2 separate regions of the Homo sapiens genome follow, and region 1 is linked to region 2. The links come from fine-mapping of genetic effects on gene expression. A gene starts in region 2. The other region holds a variant in brackets. All regions are shown on one strand. Distances are from middle to middle. Region 1 overlaps LOC100506207 (a long non-coding RNA gene). Region 2 holds the start of SLC35B3 (solute carrier family 35 member B3).

Region 1 (9,771 bases), 140 kb before region 2:
CAAAACCAGCCTGAGCAACATAGCAAGACCCTGTCTCTGCAGAAATGTTTCTTTAAAAATTAGCCAGGCATGGGAACATGTGCCTATAGTCCCAGCTACTCAGAAGAATGAGGCAGGAGGATGTATTGAGCCCAGGAGTTTAAGACTGCAGTGAACTATGTTTGTGCCACTGCACAACAGCCTGGGTGACAAAACAAGACCCTGTCTGTAAAATAATAAAAAATTTAAAAAGAAGGTGGTATATAGTCTGAATGTGTGTGTCCTTCCAAAATTCCTATGTTGAAATCCTAATCCCAAAGTGATGGTATTAGGAGGTGGGGCCTTTGGGAGGTGACTAGGCAATAAGGGATCTGTCTTTAGAATGAAATTAGTGCCTTTATTGAAAAAAAACAAAAACGGAGAGCTAGCTTGTTTCTTCTACCATGTGTGGACACAGTAGAAGATGTCATCTGTGAGCTAGGCCCTCATCAAACACCAAATCTGCTGGCCTTGATCTTGGACTTCCCAGACTCCTGTTGTTTATAAGCTACCCAGTCTATGGTATTTTGTTATAGCAGCCCAAACAGACTAGGACAGAAGGATAATTCAGTCCTGTTATGCTCCTTAAGGATTAAAGAATTGCATGAATACATACATATTTTAAAATAGTTAATGGCAGCTCCACTAATAATTCACTATTAAATTCACCTAAAACTCCCTGAATATATATAATCAACAACACAATGTATTTCCCATTATTTCCCATGTGAAACGCTTATTGATGACATCATTAGAAGCAGACCTTATCTGTAAGTCTGATCCAATAGAAAAATATTAATGAATTGTTCTTAACAAGGACCTAATGCTTCGAAACTGTATTACGTCCACCAATATGGTACGATGTTCCAAAAAATTTACATGGGGTTGAAATTTTCTTTCATTTGTAGCTTTTGGCTAAGGCATGGATAAGGAGAACAAAGAATTCTTCAGAGTGAAGCAACAGGAGTATAAATGATCATCTGTTACTATTCCTTTTTAACCTATATTGTGAAGAAAGAAAGAGAGAAAGAATGAAAGGAAGAGAAAGGGAAGGAAGGAAGGAAGGAAAAAAGGAAAAAAGGAACGAAGGAAGGGAAAAAGGAAGGAGGGAAGGAAAGAAGGAAGGAAGACGGAAGGAAGGAAGGAGGGAGGGAGGGAGGGAGAAAGAGAAAGAGAAAGGGAGGAGTCAAAATTTTAAAAAATCCAACAACTTGAGCTTTAAATATACTTAAAAACTGGAATCATTAATCTATCTTGAGCTACAATATTTAGAAAGTTTTATTTGAAAAATAAAGAAAAGAGTGAAGAATACTACAGAATTCTGACTGCTTGAACTCCATTTTTATTTTTCACAAATCCATGTCTGGACTGGCCACTTTTAAAACTACTTTCACATAATTGACCTTGAAACTTTGCCTCTGGGGGAATCACAGGTCAATGTGTGAAGGAAAGTAATGAAGTTAAAGGTAGAAAGTGAATGTAGATGATACCAATGCAAATTTTTCTGACTCATCAAATTTTTTAAAATTCAGCAATATTAACTTACGATCTACGGATGAGCTATTTTACTTTTCACCCATTCACAGTGACTTTGAAAGGCAAAATTAACTAGATTTGAAAAGCTCTCCATTACTAAAGATAAGTTCCATTTGAAGCATGTGATCTCTGTGACCCACTCCCTATTCATACCCCCTCCCCTTTTGAAACCCCTAATAAAACTTGCTGGTTTTGCGGCTCAGGTGGGCATCACGGAACCTGCCAACATGTGATGTCACCCCCGGAGACCCAGCTGTAAAATTTCTCTCTTTTGTACTCTTTCTGTTTATTTCTCAGACCGGCCGACACTTAGGGAAAATAGAAAAGAACCTATGTTGAAATACTGGGGGCTGGTTCCCCCAATAAACTTATTCGATGGTAACTCTAACATGTTTGGTCAACCTTTTCTATTAAGCTGTGCTGAACAATACCCACTTAGGCAACGGTCTCCCGCCACCTCATTCCAATCTGCAGTGATGTCTCCAGATTTGTGATAACGGCAATAACACAAAACAGGCTTTCCACTGTTGTGAGTAAACAGCAGAATTCATGAAGAAGCAAACTGTTTACCCATGTGAGGTGAATGAGCTTTTCCTGAAGAGCAGGATTTAGTGCCCTCAAGGAGGCAATTTATTAAATGGAGCCAGAAATGTGTGCTCATTTTGCTGGTCTGAATAGAGCAAAGGCATCATCATTAAATAGTTACTTTAGGGCACCAAGATTTCTGTATCAGGTATTATGTAAACTTTATTTGTACGTGCACCCAGTCCTCCCAACCAGGAACAGCAACATGACAATATCTACTAGGCCATTCTGCAGGATAGTCATGTATTTACAGTGAGAGAGGAACAAAGGCCTATTCTAGAAGTCAGGACACCTTTGTTTGTGTGACCTACTGTGGGCAAAACACATAACAGTTCATTCATCTGTAAACATGGCGGTTAAACAAGATGATCGCTAAAATCCCCTTCAGTTCTAAAATAAAATTATTGATTCATTTTCCTCTCAATGTGTTAATTTATGTCTTCCAAATTGTATTAAAAACACTTTTATTTCAGTAATGCCTCTTCCCTATTCAGCCTAAATATATGCATAATTACCTTGAACTGAAACAAGATTTTTAGTGCAATATTCTCTTTCCTGTCTCTCCAAAGCATATGGAGAAACCAAAGCAATGCAAAAGTTGTTCTATGGCTGTGGCAAAAATCACTGAACAAATAATTTCCATGCCCAAATAACAAGAGTTGAAGCCAGTTAACTCATTTCTCACCTCCTCTATTTTCCGTCCCCAAAATAGATGATTACTTGCTTATTTTGCAAAGCAGGTGTTACAAAGTTTCCTGGACTTTGAGAAAAAAAAAAAAAACCCACAGATGAAAGTAAAACTTGATTATCTGTTTTTAAAAATGTGTAAATCTATTTTGGGAACTTGATGGACTCAGTCATCAGGTGTTTTGGAGAAAAAAAAAAGAGAGGAAGGCCTGGAAGTCAAGTCAGATTGACTTCAGATAAAATCCAACGTGAAAAATTTTAAACTATTATTGGAAAAATAAAGGAGCTATGTTTATGTGATTAGCTTCCATAAGTCCCTAGTGTTGTATGTCAGAATTCAGGATTCAGCCGCTTAGAATTCTATACCCTCTAATCCTACGTAAAAGTCATCTATGAACGTCTATGTCACCTACGCACTCCAAAAATATTAATTCATTGATTTCATTTTGTTTAGATAAAATTTTCAAAAAGACAAGGAATTATTATGCTTCACTCTTTGGACATGTACACAAGCACCCCAAACACAGCTAAGCTAGTACTTCTTTGAATATCAAAGATCTGCATTACTCCTCTTTGTTTCCAAGCACCTAACACTATGTGCAATAGATGATTTACAAAAATGCATTGCATGCAGAAGAATAAAGTATTTGATGTGCAGTTTTTTTAAGGCAGAGCAAGAAATGAACACTAAGAAATATAAAATATTTTTAATTTACTCGGTAGTCACTGGTGCCAGGCACTTTGCACATTTTACCTTTAATTCTTAAAACTACCCGCTGAGGCATTATCACCTCCATTTCCCCGAAGAGGACATTTCCAAGAGGTGAAGCAAATTGCTCACCATTATATCGCTAAGAATCGGTAGCTTGGTCTCAAGCCCTGTCTGGCTGGCAGCAATGCCTGTGCTCTCTGTTGCAGCCCAATTTCTCTTCTTAGTCACTGCTCAACCATAAGCTGTCCAACTTACATGTAACTTTATGAATACTGTTATAGAAAAGCATGAAGAAAACTGTGTTTTTGCTTCAGGGCTAGCTAATATCTTCCAACCAAATCTCCAACTAATAATCAGTTTGTCTCATGCCTGGGTTGTTTTATTCTGTTTTACTAAAATGTCTTTAAAATCTTTTCTGTCAGAGGAAAAGCTTATCTGAGAAGATAGACATATATAAGTACCAAAATATCAAATAAAAGGGCCATTAAATGTTCCACAGGTGACCTCTAAGCTACCCAGAGGAACAATGGGGGGAAGACGGAGGTTGGGAGAAAGGAAGGACAACTGTCATAGTCTTCCTAATTTAAGTAAGTCCTCAAAACTCAGCTCCTGAACCAGAGGCCTAATCACTGGAGGTCAGTAGACATATAAGTTTCCATCTTAATTAATTATTTGCCTGTAAGACAAGGCCTTGTGGCAGCCTGGGCTTCTCCCTCAGACTGGTGAGCTGGTGAAGGAGGTCACGGTAGTGACCAAGACCTCTCAGACTATGACTTGATGATGCTAGGCCCCACCTTCTCCCACATTTCAAATGCTTGTGTTGCCAAAGCTGAAGAATCAGGTTAGAGCTCCAGGGCTGACTCCATACCCAGCAAGCAGCATGCGGAGCGTAGCAGCTGTGGCCTTTGATCAGAGTTCAATCTTTTTACTGTATGTTCTTAAAACTCTTGTCATCAGGAATGGGGCCTGCTCATTGGAAATGGGGCCTGACTCTTATCGGCTGTACATCCTCCCAAAGGTTAG[C/T]GACTTTATCACAATACTTTGGCCATTCACTCCGAAGCAAGCCATATACTGGAATTTCTCATTTGCTCCAATTCTTCATTCATGACACCAGAAACTAACATTTAACTTCTTAAAAATAGTACTTAGAAAATATAAACATCCTTATTACTTGATCTTCTTTCTTCAGCTTCCAAGAGGAGATGATCATAAGTGAAATATGACTAATTTTTAACAATTCACTAAGCTTAAGTTTTATATTTAAAGCTGCCCTGCATACAGATGTATAACAAATGTCATATCCAAATTTGTCATAAATATATAATTAAGACATTTTCCAAGGATTGTGCAAACTGGTCTACATAAATTACGTCACAGCAAACCTAGGAGATAGTAATGGGGGAAAAAAAAGGCTGGGAGAGGTAAGCATGTCCAAAGTTGTGGAGCTATTTAAACAAACTTTGCAAATATCCATAACTAAGTAGATCACTCTCATATCCATTGAGACAAATTAATTGTATCTTCTGAAGTGGCAAGAACTTATCTGAATCATTATTTTTGCTCTGATAATATACTCATCTATATGATAGCCATTTGTTGTACGTGTCCAATTATATAGTCAAAGGTTTAAGGCTGTAGATTCTAATGAAAACTATGAAGTATTTCCCCAGAAAAAAAAAAAAGGCCATCCATGCATCTGCCACAGTTGTCTCCACAATTTCACGGTGCTGGAAGGGCTTCTGTAGCTTGTCTGCAGGCTTGAAGACCCATGTATTTTAGAGGATCATGAGCCCAGACTTAGAACACCTCCCACACTGTCTTACACTACTTCCTCTCTTTCGCAGGCTTTTGCCTTCCACACTTTTGGTGCTGGAGAAAAAGGCTAATGCTGAAAAAGGAAGACATTTGCTCTAAGTGTCTTTAAACTTTGAAACCTTTACAGTCTATGAGGCTATAAATACAGTTTACCAGGAAGCTTGTTTTTCCTTTTTATTATCATATTCTTTAAAATATAAAACCCAGAAAAGACATAACTGTAATGCGCACTCTCTGAGCCGTGACTTTGGTGAGCACTTGGGGAACAGACATGTCTTTATTGGATTGCCTTTGTCTCACAACACAAAAGGCACTGATAGCTCCAGGAAATCCAGATATGTCTGCGTAGGGTGTTTCATGCTGTAGATATTTAAGGAGGTGTGAAAGTGTACATTAGCACTCTTTTTGGAAGGAAAAGACTCTTCTTGCTTGAACATTACTAACATTTAAACATAACTTAGCAGACCAAAATTCAAGGCTATTTAAAATATGTTCCCTTGGTAAGATCTAAAGTTCAGTTGTAAATTTTTAATCTCAGTGTGAAATTCACATGTTATCTCACTTTATGCTCCCTCCTAAAATGCTTTAAATTCTAAACATTCTATTTCTTTCTGGGATATGTAGCAGAAATATCTTAAATCTAATCCTCTGTCCCATCCTTTGTGTCATATTTTGGGACTTTATAATATCTCGCCTGGGTTTTTTTAAGATAGCTTCCTGTCTCATAACTCCCTGACCAAGTCAGAGGGTATTGAAAGACATTAGCTATTTCCCTAATTATTAAATTTGATCATGTCAACCACTTGCTTTAAAATTCCTTTTGGTTCCTATCCCTTTCAGATTTAGACCCAAATTTCTTATTTTAGCTCTCAAGGCCCTTCCAATCTATTTCTGGCCTATTATCCCATTGGTAACTCTATCTAAACTCCTCTCCACTTCCATTAAGCCACCAATATGCCTCTAAATTCATTCCAGTATACTAAAGTCCTCATCATTTTTAAGCACATCAAGATCTGCTATAAAAGATATGGAATCAGCCGGGTGCAATGGCTCAGGCCTGAAATCCCAGCACTTTGGGAGGCCGACGGGGGCGGATCATGAGGTCAATATATCGAGACCATCCTGGCCAACATGGTGAAACCCTGTCGCTACTAAAAATACAAAAATTAGCCAAGTGCAGTGGTGTGTGCCTATAGTCCCAGCTACTCAGGAGGCCGAGGCAGGAGAATTGCTTGAATACAGAAGGCAGAGGTTGCAGTGAGCCGAGATCACACCACTGCACTCCAGCCTGATGACAGAGCAAGACTTCATCTCAAAAAAAAAAAAAAAAAAAAAAGATATGGAATTAACCTAGATGCCCACCAATGATAGGCCAGATAAAGCAAATGTAGTACATGTACACCATGGAAAACTACACAGCTATGAAAAAGAATGAGATCAAGTTCTTTGCTGCAACATGAATGGAGATGGAGGCCACTATTCTAAGCGAATGAACACAGGAACAGTAAGCCAAATACCGCATGTTCTAACTTATAAGTGGTAGCTAAACATTGAATACACATGGACACAAAGAAGGGAACAACAGAGACCTGGGCCTACTTGAGGGTAGAGGGAGGAAGGACAATGAGGACCGAAAAGCTACCTATTGGGTACTATGCTTATTACCTGGGTGACAAAATAATCTGTACACCAAACCCCCACGACACACTATTTACCTGTATAACGAATCTGCACATGTACTCTTGAACCTAAAATAAAACTTAAATATTTTTTAAATTTAAAAAATAAATAAATAAAGACTTGCCATAATAAGAAGCATGCTGTCCCTCCTGGGATATTCTTTCTCACCTTCATCAACTGAAGCTGCCTACTCATCTTTTAAGACTCAGTTCCAATGTCACCTCTTCTGAGGAGACTTTCATGAACTCCTCATATAGTTAGCCTATCTTTGTGCTCAATCCCATTTTCTTTGTAACTCTGTAAAAGCTAGTATCAGCCAGGTGTGGTGGTTCATGCCTGTAATCTCAGCACTTTGGGAGGCCGAGCTGGGTGGATCACCTGAGGTCAGGAGTTTGAGACCTGCCTGGCCAACATGGTGAAACCCCGTCTCTAACTAAAATACAAAAATTAGCCAGGCGTGGTGGCACACGCCTGTAATCCCAGCTACTCAGGAGGCTGAGGCACAAGAATCACTTGAACCCAGGAGGCAGAGGTTGCAGTGAGCCGAGATCACGCCACTGCACTCCAGCCTGGGCGAAAGAGTGAGATTTTGTCTCAAAAAAAAAAAAAAAAAGCTAGTATCATTGAAAGTTTTATGCATGATAATCTGTCTCACCAGGAAGACTACAAGGTCCTCAAAGACAGATGTATGTTATGTCATCTTTATAGAGCCTGCACCAGGCCAATGATTGACATAGCTTAGAAATTATTTGAATAATCAGTAATATAGTAGAGTGAATGTGAGAATAAATTTTTACTGTATTACTATCAATCCCTAAATTGGATGTAAATAAATTACAGTGAAAATGGCCATACTGCCCAAGGTAATTTACAGATTCAATGCCATCCCCATCAAGCTACCAATGACTTTCTTCACAGAATTGGAAAAAACTACTTTAAAGTTCATATGGAACCAAAAAAGAGCCCGCATCGCCAAGTCAATCCTAAGCCAAAAGAACAAAGCTGGAGGCATCACACTACCTGACTTCAAACTATACTACAAGGCTACAGTAACCAAAACAGCATGGTACTGGTACCAAAACAGAGATATAGATCAATGGAACAGAACAGAGCCCTCAGAAATAACGCCGCATACCTACAACTATCTGATCTTTGACAAACCTGAGAAAAACAAGCAATGGGGAAAGGATTCCCTATTTAATAAATGGTGCTGGGAAAACTGGCTAGCCATATGTAGAAAGCTGAAACTGGATCCCTTCATTACATCTTATACAAAAATCAATTCAAGGTGGATTAAAGATTTAAACGTTAGACCTAAAACCATAAAAACCCTAGAAGAAAACCTAGGCATTACCATTCAGGACATAGGCATGGGCAAGGACTTCATGTCCAAAACACCAAAAGCAATGGCAACAAAAGCCAAAATTGACAAATGGGATCTAATTAAACTAAAGAGCTTCTGCACAGCAAAAGAAACTACCATCAGAGTGAACAGGCAACCTACAACATGGGAGAAAATTTTCGCAACCTACTCATCTGACAAAGGGCTAATATCCAGAATCTACAATGAACTCAAACAAATTTACAAGAAAAAACAAACAACCCCATCAAAAAGTGGGCGAAGGACATGAACAGATACTTCTCAAAAGAAGACATTTATGCAGCCAAAAAACACATGAAAAAATGCTCATCATCACTGGCCATCAGAGAAATGCAAATCAAAACCACTATGAGATATCATCTCACACCAGTTAGAATGGCAATCATTAAAAAGTCAGGAAACAACAGGTGCTGGAGAGGATGTGGAGAAATAGGAACACTTTTACACTGTTGGTGGGACTGTAAACTAGTTCAACCATTGTGGAAGTCAGTGTGGCGACTCCTCAGGGATCTAGAACTAGAAATACCATTTGACCCAGCCATCCCATTACTGGGTATATACCCAAATGACTATAAATCATGCTGCTATAAAGACACATGCACACATATGTTTATTGTGGCATTATTCACAATAGCAAAGACTTGGAACCAACCCAAATGTCCAACAATGATAGACTGGATTAAGAAAATGTGGCACATATACACCATGGAATACTATGCAGCCATAAAAAATGATGAGTTCATGTCCTTTGTAGGGACATGGATGAAATTGGAAATCATCATTCTCAGTAAACTATCGCAAGAACAAAAAACCAAACACCGCATATTCTCACTCATAGGTGGGAATTGAACAATGAGATCACATGGACACATGAAGGGGAATATCACACTCTGGGGACTGTGGTGGGGTGGGGGGAGCGGGGAGGGATAGCATTGGGAGATATACCTAAGGCTAGACGACGAGTTAGTGGGTGCAGCGCACCAGCATGGCACATGTATACATATGTAACTAACCTGCACAATGTGCACATGTACCCTAAAACTTAAAGTATAATAAAAAAAAAAAAAAGAACATGGGAAAGAGAAGTAAAAAAAAAAAAGGAAAAAAAGAAAAATTTAGACATTTCTAAATTAATATTGCTAAAATATTTAAATATAGGAGAAAGGAAAAAGGGAAAGTTGAATTTATTTGAACCTTGTAGTCTCTAGACAAAGATGAAATATCACATTCTTAATTCCTAGAATTTTTTTCTTATTTAAGACACAAAACAACATTTTAGAAAAAGCAGCTTGGAATTTAAGAATCATAGGAACATTCTGGAGTCAATATATACAGGTAAGAAAGGAACTATGATAGT
Region 2 (9,771 bases):
AATCACACTATAATTACTTGTGTAATTAATTATCTCCACCACACAAGGCTGTGAGCTTTGTGAGGGCAGGGATCCATGTCTGTCTTGTCATCCACATATCCACAATACCCAGTAGCATGCAGAGTAAGTGCTCAATAAGTATTTATTAAATGGATATTTAATGAAAATCAAATTAACTAGTTTTTCTGCTCAGTGCATCTGGAACCATATATCTATCAATGAACTTCCTAGTTTGGAAATGCTATATAACCTATTCCTTATGGAAGAGCTAGAAAAGTGACAACTGATGACTATATATAAATGGATTATTCTAATGATAGTAGGCTATATTAATAAGAATATTAATAGCTAACTTTTACTAAGTGTTTGTCAGGTAATAGGTGTTGTGCTAACCATTTAACCATCTTTAAACATCTTTCACTTACTCATCACTACAATTTACCACATAGGTACTACTGTCATTCCCATTTCACAGATGGGGAGATTGAGACTTAGAGAATTTAAGCAATTTGCACAAAGACACTCAAAGAGCAAGGGGTGGTGCAAGGATTTAAATTTAATCTGACACTAGAACCTGAGACTTAACTATGCAAGATGATTCTTCACAGACACATGACTAAGTAACACCAATTGACACGAACTGACATTGTTGATCACTCCTTCCTCCTTTAAACATTGTCTTCACCTGGCTTTTAGAAGACTGTACATTCCTGGACCCATCCTATGTCAACAGCTGCTTCTTCTAAGTCTCCACTGCTGGTTTCTCTTTCTCGCTCCCCCAAGTCACATGACTTGATTATCTAGGACATCCTAAAATACATAAAAACACCTCCCAAAAATTGCTCCTAGGAAATGGAAGGCATTTATCCATAGGTGCCCATTCCCCATTGGTGGATCATTGCCTGGGGGTGTTAATGCCACCAAACTTCCCAAGGGCCAGGTGTGTGTGTGTGTGTGTGTGTGTGTGTGTGTGTGTGTGTGTGTCAGGAGTGACGGCATCTCAACCCTATCTGAGCACTGTTCCTGAAAAGGATACTTGCTGATGTTCACAAAACAATGTCAGTGTTCTATCAGGCCAATTTCCTCCAGTTGATACAATATATGGTAGGACCAGTGGAATTCCATGGTCGTGTGTCATTGTCACACCTCTTTTACCATAAAGTGTGTCCTTTAGTTGGAGGCAATACATCAGAAAATCATGTGTTTGGGCTGGGTGTGGTGGCTCACGCTTGTAATTGCACCACTTTAGGAGGCTGAGGTGGGCAGATCACTTGAGGTCAGGAGTTCACAACCAGCCTGGCCAACATGGTGAAACCGTGTCTCTACCAAAAATACAAAAAAATTAGCCAGGTGTAGTGGCAGGCACCTGTAATCCCAGCTACTGGGGAGGCTGAGGCAGGAGAATGGCTTGAACCTGGGAGGCAGAGGTTGTGCCACTGCATTCCAGCCTGGGCAACAGAGTGAGACTCTGTGTCAAAGAAGGAAGAAAGGAAGGAAGGAAGGGAGGGAGGGAGGGAGGGAAAGAGAGAAAGAAAGAGGAAGGAAGGAAGGGAGGGAGGGAGGGAGGAGATGGAGGGAAGGAAGGGAAAGAAAGAAAAAAGAAAGGAAGGAAGAAAAAAGAAAAGAAAGAAGGAAAAGAGAGAGAGAAAGGAAAGAGAGAAAGAAAGAAAGAAAAAGGAAGGAAGAGAAAGAAAGAAAAAGAAAAAGGAAGGAAGGAAGAGAAAGAGAAAGAAAGAAAAAGAAAAAGGAAGGAAGGAAGAAAGAAAAAGAAAGAAAAAAAGAAGGAAAGAAAGAAAGAAAGAAAGAAAGAAAGAAAGAAAGAAAGAAAGAAAGAAAAAAGAAAGAAAGAAAGGAAGGAAGGAAGGAAGGAAGGAAGTCAATCAATCATGTGTTTGTAACTCTGTTATATAATGGTACTGGCAGAGGCACCATGAACAAGACCAGTCATATCAAGGGAAGTGTCAGTTCCGTAAGTACAAACCACGGCTCTCTCCAGGAAGGAAGGACTTTTGTGTAATTGCTCTCCTTATGGAATTTACCATCAATCTTTGCTGCTGATGGGCTGGACATCCAAAGAGGCAGTAGTCATATCGGCTTTAGTAAGAAAGAGCCTTAATTGTTGGGCCATGCACATGTCCTCCCCTTAATATCACTAAGAAAGTCCTTGTTGTCATCTGACTGCAAAGTAACCCACTTCCAGAGTTCTGAGGAGCTGCATTCTAGACTTTCTTCTTACATCAAATTTCTTAGCTTGGTTTCCCTCAAAACCTGAGACAACTACTTATGTGGGGACAGGTAATTTGGGATGTGATCCTAGTGAGAAACAATGAGAGAATGGAAGGGAGAATATAGACATAATACAAGAATGTGTTATTGAAGTTGCTGTTGTGAGAAACCAGAACCCAATTTCACTGGGACTTTTTGAAAAACACACAGAATGGCCTACAAAACTATCTTGCTCAAGTGTAAGAAGCAAGAGCATTTATCCATCAGTGACTGTCACCCCTTGGTTGAAGGGCCCCAGATGTGTTGACTTACCAGCACTTCAAAGCTGTGCAGGACAGGAGCTGAGAGAGCTACTGCTGGAATGTGTGAAGTCCGAAGAACCTCAGGGAAGAAAGCAAAGAGGCCTGGTAAATGTGGGAGAGGAGAAGCTGTCAGGGAGAAGAATGTGTAAGATTGCATGAAACTGCCCCCCACAACCAAGTCAGAAATGAGAGGTGATGCTCAGAAGATGTGAATCAAGACACCAAAGGTTTCTGATACTACAGAATTATTAATTTCTTAAAAATTTAAAACCAATTCATAGGACCAGGCGCAGTGGCTCACGCTTATAATCCTAGCACTTTGGGAGGCTGAGGTGGGTGGATCACTTGGGGTCAGGAGTTCGAGACCAGCCTGGTCAATAAGGTGAAACCCCATCTCTACTAAAAATACAAAAATTAGCCGGGCATGGTGACAGGCGCCTATAATCCCAGCTACTCGGGAGGCTGAGACAGGAGAATGGCTTGAACCCAGGAGGCAGAGGTTGCAGTGAGCTGAGATGTGCCACTGCACTCCAGCCTGAGCGACAGAGTGAGCCTCTGCCTCAATCAGTCAATCAGTCAATAAAAAACAATTCATAGCTGCAAGTCTTTAATTTTGTTTACCACGTGGTTATCACAGGAGTAAATGGGAAGTATTGTAAGAGAGTCGATATTTATTAAACACCTACTCTATAATAAGTACTACTCCAGATAGTCTCTCCTACATTTCACATTTGACATGTAAAAATATTTCACTGACATGGTAGTCAGAGAAGAGCCAGGTGACATTTGAGCAGTGACTGGAAAAAAATGAGGAAGCAAGCTCTGTGGACATCTGAGAGGGCAGTGTTCCATGCAGAAGGAACAACAGCTACAAAGCACTGATGCTTGCTGTGCTTGGGGGCAATTAGAAAAGCTCTGAAGTGTAGCTTGGATGTGATCCATCAAGAATAAGTTCAGTCTTAAAAGTCAGGGTAAGAATTTTGAACTTTAATCTGAGTAAAATGGTAAACCGCTAAAAGGTTCTGCACAGAGGAGTGGCATATTCAGGTTCTAATGGGATCACTCCAGCTGCTGAATGCAACTATGTAGAGAAATAAAGGGAATGCAGAAAGCTATGCTCACGGCTACTGCAATTGTCCAGGCATGAGCAGATGGTACCTTGTAACACCTCTTGTACCTTAAGTTGTTTTATACTGCCATTTACTTTCTCATGGAAACCCCTAATTTCTTCAGGACAGGGAGCTCATACGCATAGTTTACGATATGAGCTATACATATGCCCATTTAATAAATACTTGATAAATAACCACCATATAAATGGCTAACAGTAGTACTAAATTCACATTATACAGTGACGATATGGCATCACTGAAAGGTTTTGTCATTTACTATCTCTTTAGGAAATTTAAGTTCTCTAAGCCTTAATTCCAACATTCCTAAGTGTTGCTAACACCAGCCTAACAACGTTGGCAAGTATTAAACGAAAATGTCTACCCAGACCTTTTTTTCTCACCACCAAAGTAGGTGCCTTGCTTTCTTACAAACCCTCGATCCCAATACAAGACACAAATGCTACCCTTTCTGAAGAGTGCCTGTAAAATTTTAAAAGTTGTCCATAACTGACTGGATTCTAACATACATATTAATCCAATTCATCCCTTTCTGGTATTCAAGGCATGCTTTCAAAAATTGTCCATCTTCGTTACAGTAATATTTTCCTTAATTATTCTCTGAAAACAGCTCATCCCCAAACCGTCTTGGTTTTTACGTTATTACATCTCAGTGGTGATGGATGAGGCCCTAAACGCGGGGAAAACCTTTTACAAAAGTTTTGATGGCTGGTCCTCAAGCTTTGAGATTTACCTTCCAAGAATTAAGCAGCACTATCGAAACAATGCTGGCAACATTTTTATGAGGTTGCAAGGACCACGGTTGCTGCAGCTACAGGATGAGTTATAACGTCAGAAGCAACCCAAGCGTTACTTCAGGCCCATCTTCACCGGAGAAGCCCGTATGAATCAGGCAAAAACATAAAAACAGGTTCTGTGACTTTGCCGTATCTCATTTAGATCAAGTAGCACGCAGAAGGAAGACAAGGATTTTAAAATCTGGCTCCAACATTCTCCACTTGGTCGCGTTCTCAAATCTCAGCCCAGGGCCGCTGACGTAAAGTCGCCTCTCTCGTGGGCACCACGGGCTCGAGGGTAGCCGGCAGCTGAAACCCGAGGGGCTTCAGAGGCTTGGAGGCCAGGAGCAGGCAGAGCGCCGATGGGATAATGAGATTCTCCAGCAGATCGGCGCTCACCGACCTACTCCATTTCAGTGGGTAGAGGTAAAGGCTGAAAGGCGACCCTCGCACCGCCCGGCCCACCTAGGCAGTGCCGGCCTAGCGTCTCTACCCCATAGAGCATGCGCGGGAGGTAACGGCCCGCCCGCCACCGGCCACACAGGCCTGTCGGGAGGCGGGGCCACGCGTCTGCGCACGCGCGCAGGGACACATAGGCGGAAGTGGCCTGCGGGCGCCGGAGTTGAGAGTGCTTTCCGGGGAGGCGACCGCCGCGGTGGAAAGTGCAGGAGTGGGCGAGGAGGAGGAGGAAGAGGAGGTGATGGCGACGGACCAGGGGAGGGGGAGATGCTCCGTCTAGCTCAGACGCCACGCAGGCTGCCGTCACCCTTCCGGGTGACATACCGGCCTTGGGGTACGCGTGCCTTCGGGGCCTTTCCTGTGTTTGGGACCCAGATCTCCTCTCCTCCAGAAAACCTTGACACTGCCCATCTTCCTCATCCAGAAGGAGCGTTCGAGGAATGGATGAGGTCGGGATGGAAGAAACGGGTGATTCCCTTTTTTGAAAGAGCGGAAACCGGCCGGGCGGTTTCCAGGGAGGAGCATCTGTTCCTCCTCGCCCGTTTTTCGCCCTCGGGCTGGCGAGAACTCCCTCAGGTCCCAATCCGTGGACTCGCAGGGGTGAGGTGACCTCAAGGGGTCTTTTACGCTGTTCTCGGGGTCTCTGGAGAACTGTCAGTCACCTGGATACCTCTAGACTGTATTTACAGTTAACTGTTTCCTCGTTCCGTGTTTATTAAATAGGGGCACTCCAAGGTACTCTTTTCTCCATTTGGCTTGCAGTAGAATGTGATTGTTCTGGCTGGGCTATTAAGTTTATGGCATAAACTTCCACTAGAAGTTCTGCAAGTTTCCTCCAGTCTTTGCAACTGAATTATCTCTCCCGTCTTTTTATTATTTAAGGAATATTGAAAGTAAAAGATGGAATGATTTGGTGCGCTAACAAAATCTTAAGTGTTGAGTATCTGCATTTTTTCTACATTAGGATATCAGAAGCCTAGAATTGTTTTTTGATTAAACGTTTTTCTAAGTGAATTGAGATAGTTTGGAACTTGGAAGAGAGGCAGCATTTCAAAATAATTTAGACAGCGTTATTTTTACTTAATTACTTAATATATAAAGTCCTAGTGTTAACTTTTTCTCTTGGAAAAAAAAAAGAATAGTCTTCAAACATTAGCACAGGGTTTCTCCACCTTTGTGTAATGATGTGTGTACAAAGAAATGAGATGGAACTTTGTTTTTTCTGTTTTATAATCGTACACCATAGGCCATGATTGATTCCGGAGCGCAGTTAATCAAGGCATAATGGCATGGTAAGATTCTTTTATTTGTAACGTTGAGTGTGGCAAAGTATAGTTAAAATCACGTTTTTTCAGGTTAATGACACCGTAATGACTTTTTTTTCATATTCTACCTTTTTTTGGTGTGGGACTTTTGTCCTTCAGGTCGGAAAACTCAAAAATAAACTGAAATAATTGTGACTTCAATAGGTCATTGTAACTCAACATTATCACTAATTTTAATTTTTAAATATACATTGTATGCCGGAAATGCTACCTTTTTATTCCATTTTAGCAGTTGAAGTTGAATATCTGTGTTGAATTTAGGAAGAGGCCTCAGGCAATTATACACACCTGTGATTTTTAAAATATATATATATATATTTTAGTTTCACTGATTACTGTGAGCTTCAAAAGCAAAGCACAATGTTGATCATTTAGTCTGAAAACTAATTTTAATTCCATGCTTCATTTTTGCTCCTTGCATCACAAGGAGTTTGGCCCATTTTTTTTTTTAGATGATGGTTAGTATCAGTCATTAATGTTTGAAGTGGAAGGGATATGGCAGACATTCCCCAATGATCACAGTTATTAGGTATCAGAGGTCTTTATCAGTCACACTTTCTCACCAGTGATGTTCTTATTAATAAAACAGCATTCTAAATGCAAGGCTTTGGTGGGCAAGTTTTATGAGACTGATGCCTCAGGCAGAGGAAACAAATTTATTTTCATGTTCATTTCAAATGTTTTGTGGGGAGTTTCAGTAGCAATGTCGGTATTTTGGCATACATGTAGAAAAGACAGTGCTAGAGAGATTTCATTCTGCACATATGGCCTAGATCTGCAGCACATAAAGTTGCCAAGAAGTGTATTAGAAGTGGTAAAGTGTTGGAAAGGAGCTGAATAACGTTGATTAAATAAATGGTGCTTGCTAAACTGTGGTAGAGTCCTTCATTTAATCTTACATTTTTGTTATGTGCCAGAACATCATAGGAAGATATCTCTTGCCTTAAGGATTTCATAGGCTTTTAGGAGAAACAAGTATAAAAACGAAAAAGCTATACCATTATCATTTAGGAATTTGAAAAATATGTATAATATGATTGAGTCCAGGACATCAACTCGTTTTTAACTTCGAGGCCTTATTCATGGATGCAGCATGATCAGACTTCACGTTGAGCCATGTGACAGATGGGTCAGAAAGGGAAGAATTGATTATAAACAGTCTCGTAATCTAGGCAAGAGAAAATGGCTGCCTGATGGAGTAGGGTCCGAAACAGATATTAGATATAGTTATAGAGGTAGAGTTAACAGGAATCTTGGCAAAATATAGAATGTGAGGAAAAGGAAAGATTCTTAAGATGACTCCCAGATTTTTAGCTTGTGTTTCATACTAGGTACTGTTAAGTGAGATTGGGAATATAGGAACAAACAGTAGATTTGTTTTGAGGGGAAAATAATCAGCTTTGGCCATTTTAAATATGAAGTGCCAGCAGAGCTTATGAGTAGAGGTATCAAAGAAGCATTTAGACGTAGAGCTCTGGATCTCAGGAGAGAAGGCAGCGTTGGAAATTCAGGTCTGTATTTCCAGCTGCACATCAAAGGGGTGAGTCAGCTTGAGCACACCATATCACCCTAGCAATATTTCTAAAAAGTTGAAGGATGACAGCTAACACACTTATGGACTGTCATATGCCAGGCAATTTTACATTTATTTCATATAGTCCTAACCAAAATCCTGTGATAGGCACATTTTTAACTCCTCCCACTTTTGAAGGTGCAGAACCTAAAGCTCAGAAAAGTTAAACGATTTGCCCAAGGCTCCTCAGCTAATAAGTAGTAAAGCCAGATCTTGAACTCATATCTGTCAAAATTCCAAAGCATGGGGAAAGCATTATGCTATACTGCTTTCTTATACTATTACCTATAATTGTATTGAGTCATTACAATATGCTTGGCAGTTTACTAAATTACAAACATCTCAGAAGAAGGTGACTTTGGGAAAGCGTGACCTTCTGGAGAAATGTTTTGATGCCAATAAAAGCAGGAAAGAAAGATATTTTCTAGAAGTTTTATTTATTCTGTATGTATGTGTAAATATGTAAGCATTATTTGTAAATTTTCCCCACTCTTTTTCTATAAGATTTTCAGTTTTGCTCATAAAGTTTGCCAGTACCACCATCCATTTCAAAAATCGTATCCAAGCAGAAGGTGAGTGATTGCAAGCTGAAGTTTGAGGGTATCAAGAGGAAGGATCAGTTTATTTGGTTCATCTGAATATCAGGTCAGAGTATATGCCAGGTACCAAGGACACAGAGACAAATAAGATTTGAATCTTGCCTTTCAAGTTCTCTTTTCTAATAACTGGGGGGATTAGTGATGGTGTCACAAAGGAGGGGATATTAAAGCTGAACTTCCAAACCTGACCTTGAGAAAGAAGACCTCAGGCTGAAAGGACATCATGAACAGAAGGCAGCGGTGTTTTAAAGTCCCTGGTGTATTTCAGGAATGAAACATGGGTGGTTTAGGGCTTTATTGAGAGTGGAGGGAGAGCAAACTTAGAAACCTATGTAAGGCCGGGTTTATTTGAATGGTGCACTATATCCATGCTCACACATAGAAAAGAGTAAATTGTTAAGGTTTTCGTCTCTTCTACATTCAAGCACAGGTTTGACCAAATATTTAGGAGAGATAATTTAAAGCATGGTTTTAAAAGAAAGTCACATCTCAAAGATACCCTGCAAGATTACATAAAAAGTCTTACAAATGACAGTGATTGAAACATAATGTGGGAAGCAAGAACAAAGGAAAGTGAAGAATAAACAAGAGGAACACAGTAAACTTCATGAAACAACTTTTCTATTTAGAAATAAGGCAGGTGCCCTATAAAATGTTGTGGTGGCTGCATATTTTTAGTTACAAGTGGTATTCAGATCCTTGACCCCTCCTTTAATTCCTAAGGATGACCTGGTTAACCTCTGTAAATTAGCAAACTAGAAGTGATCATGAAGAGGCGACTCTAATTTTGGCCATTTTAAGCCATCTTGTAACAGTTTAAAAAAACATTACCAAAGGAAAACTCACTGTCAAAATTATTCTTATTTCTCTTCGTGCCGCAGAGTTTAAATTTTTGTTCCCACTGGAATTAAAAACAGATGAGTCGTTTCTAAGAAAATAACTTTTTCTTTTACATAGGTTTATTCTATACTTTGTCATAATTCTTCAGTCTTTCCTCAGTCTTTACATGGAGTTCATTTTTTCAGTTTATATAAATCCAAAGAGAAATTGATGGCTTCATAATTTTTTTTAGACTGACAAAAAATGACATGTTTTCTCCAGCCTTTTACATCCCAGAAGAATGTAAATTAAAATGATTTGTTCCAGAGGAAGAAAACATTTTTTAACCTAAGAGATGCTACTGCTGAAGCATATTGTGCTTTCTGTAGTCTCTGATAAATCTAGCTTTTTAAGGACCTTAGGTTTGGGGTTTCTTTGTTTTGTTTTTTTCATTTATTTTCTAGAGACAGGGTCTGGCTCTGTCGCCCAGGCTGGAGTGCAGGGGTGCAATCATAGATTACTGCAGCCTCAAACTCCTGGACTCAAGTGATCATCCTGCCTC

The links. PIP is the estimated chance that this variant, and not a neighbour inherited with it, causes the effect. A credible set is the group of variants that fine-mapping cannot tell apart.
Region 1: its variant is the best candidate, but not a certain one, in a credible set for the expression of SLC35B3 in lung (TOPMed, PIP 0.58).

The regions. Positions count from the first base shown.
Region 1 is chr6:8,566,272-8,576,042 of GRCh38, reverse strand. The region is part of intron 3 of LOC100506207 (a long non-coding RNA gene); the gene reads right to left. Among named protein-coding and RNA genes, the nearest start is that of HULC, 81 kb to the left of the region's middle. RefSeq lists an enhancer at 3,745-3,914. The variant C/T (reference allele first, on the strand shown) is at 4,562.
Region 2 is chr6:8,430,799-8,440,569 of GRCh38, reverse strand. SLC35B3 (solute carrier family 35 member B3) reads left to right here and starts at 5,025. Exons shown (of 10, transcript NM_001370479.2): 1 at 5,025-5,227. It overlaps LOC100506207 (a long non-coding RNA gene), which reads right to left and starts at 4,947. Exons shown (of 5, transcript NR_038980.1): 1 at 4,392-4,947; 2 at 2,539-2,630. RefSeq lists enhancers at 4,628-4,717, 4,798-4,877, 4,818-4,987, 5,188-5,247, 4,744-5,285 and 2 more.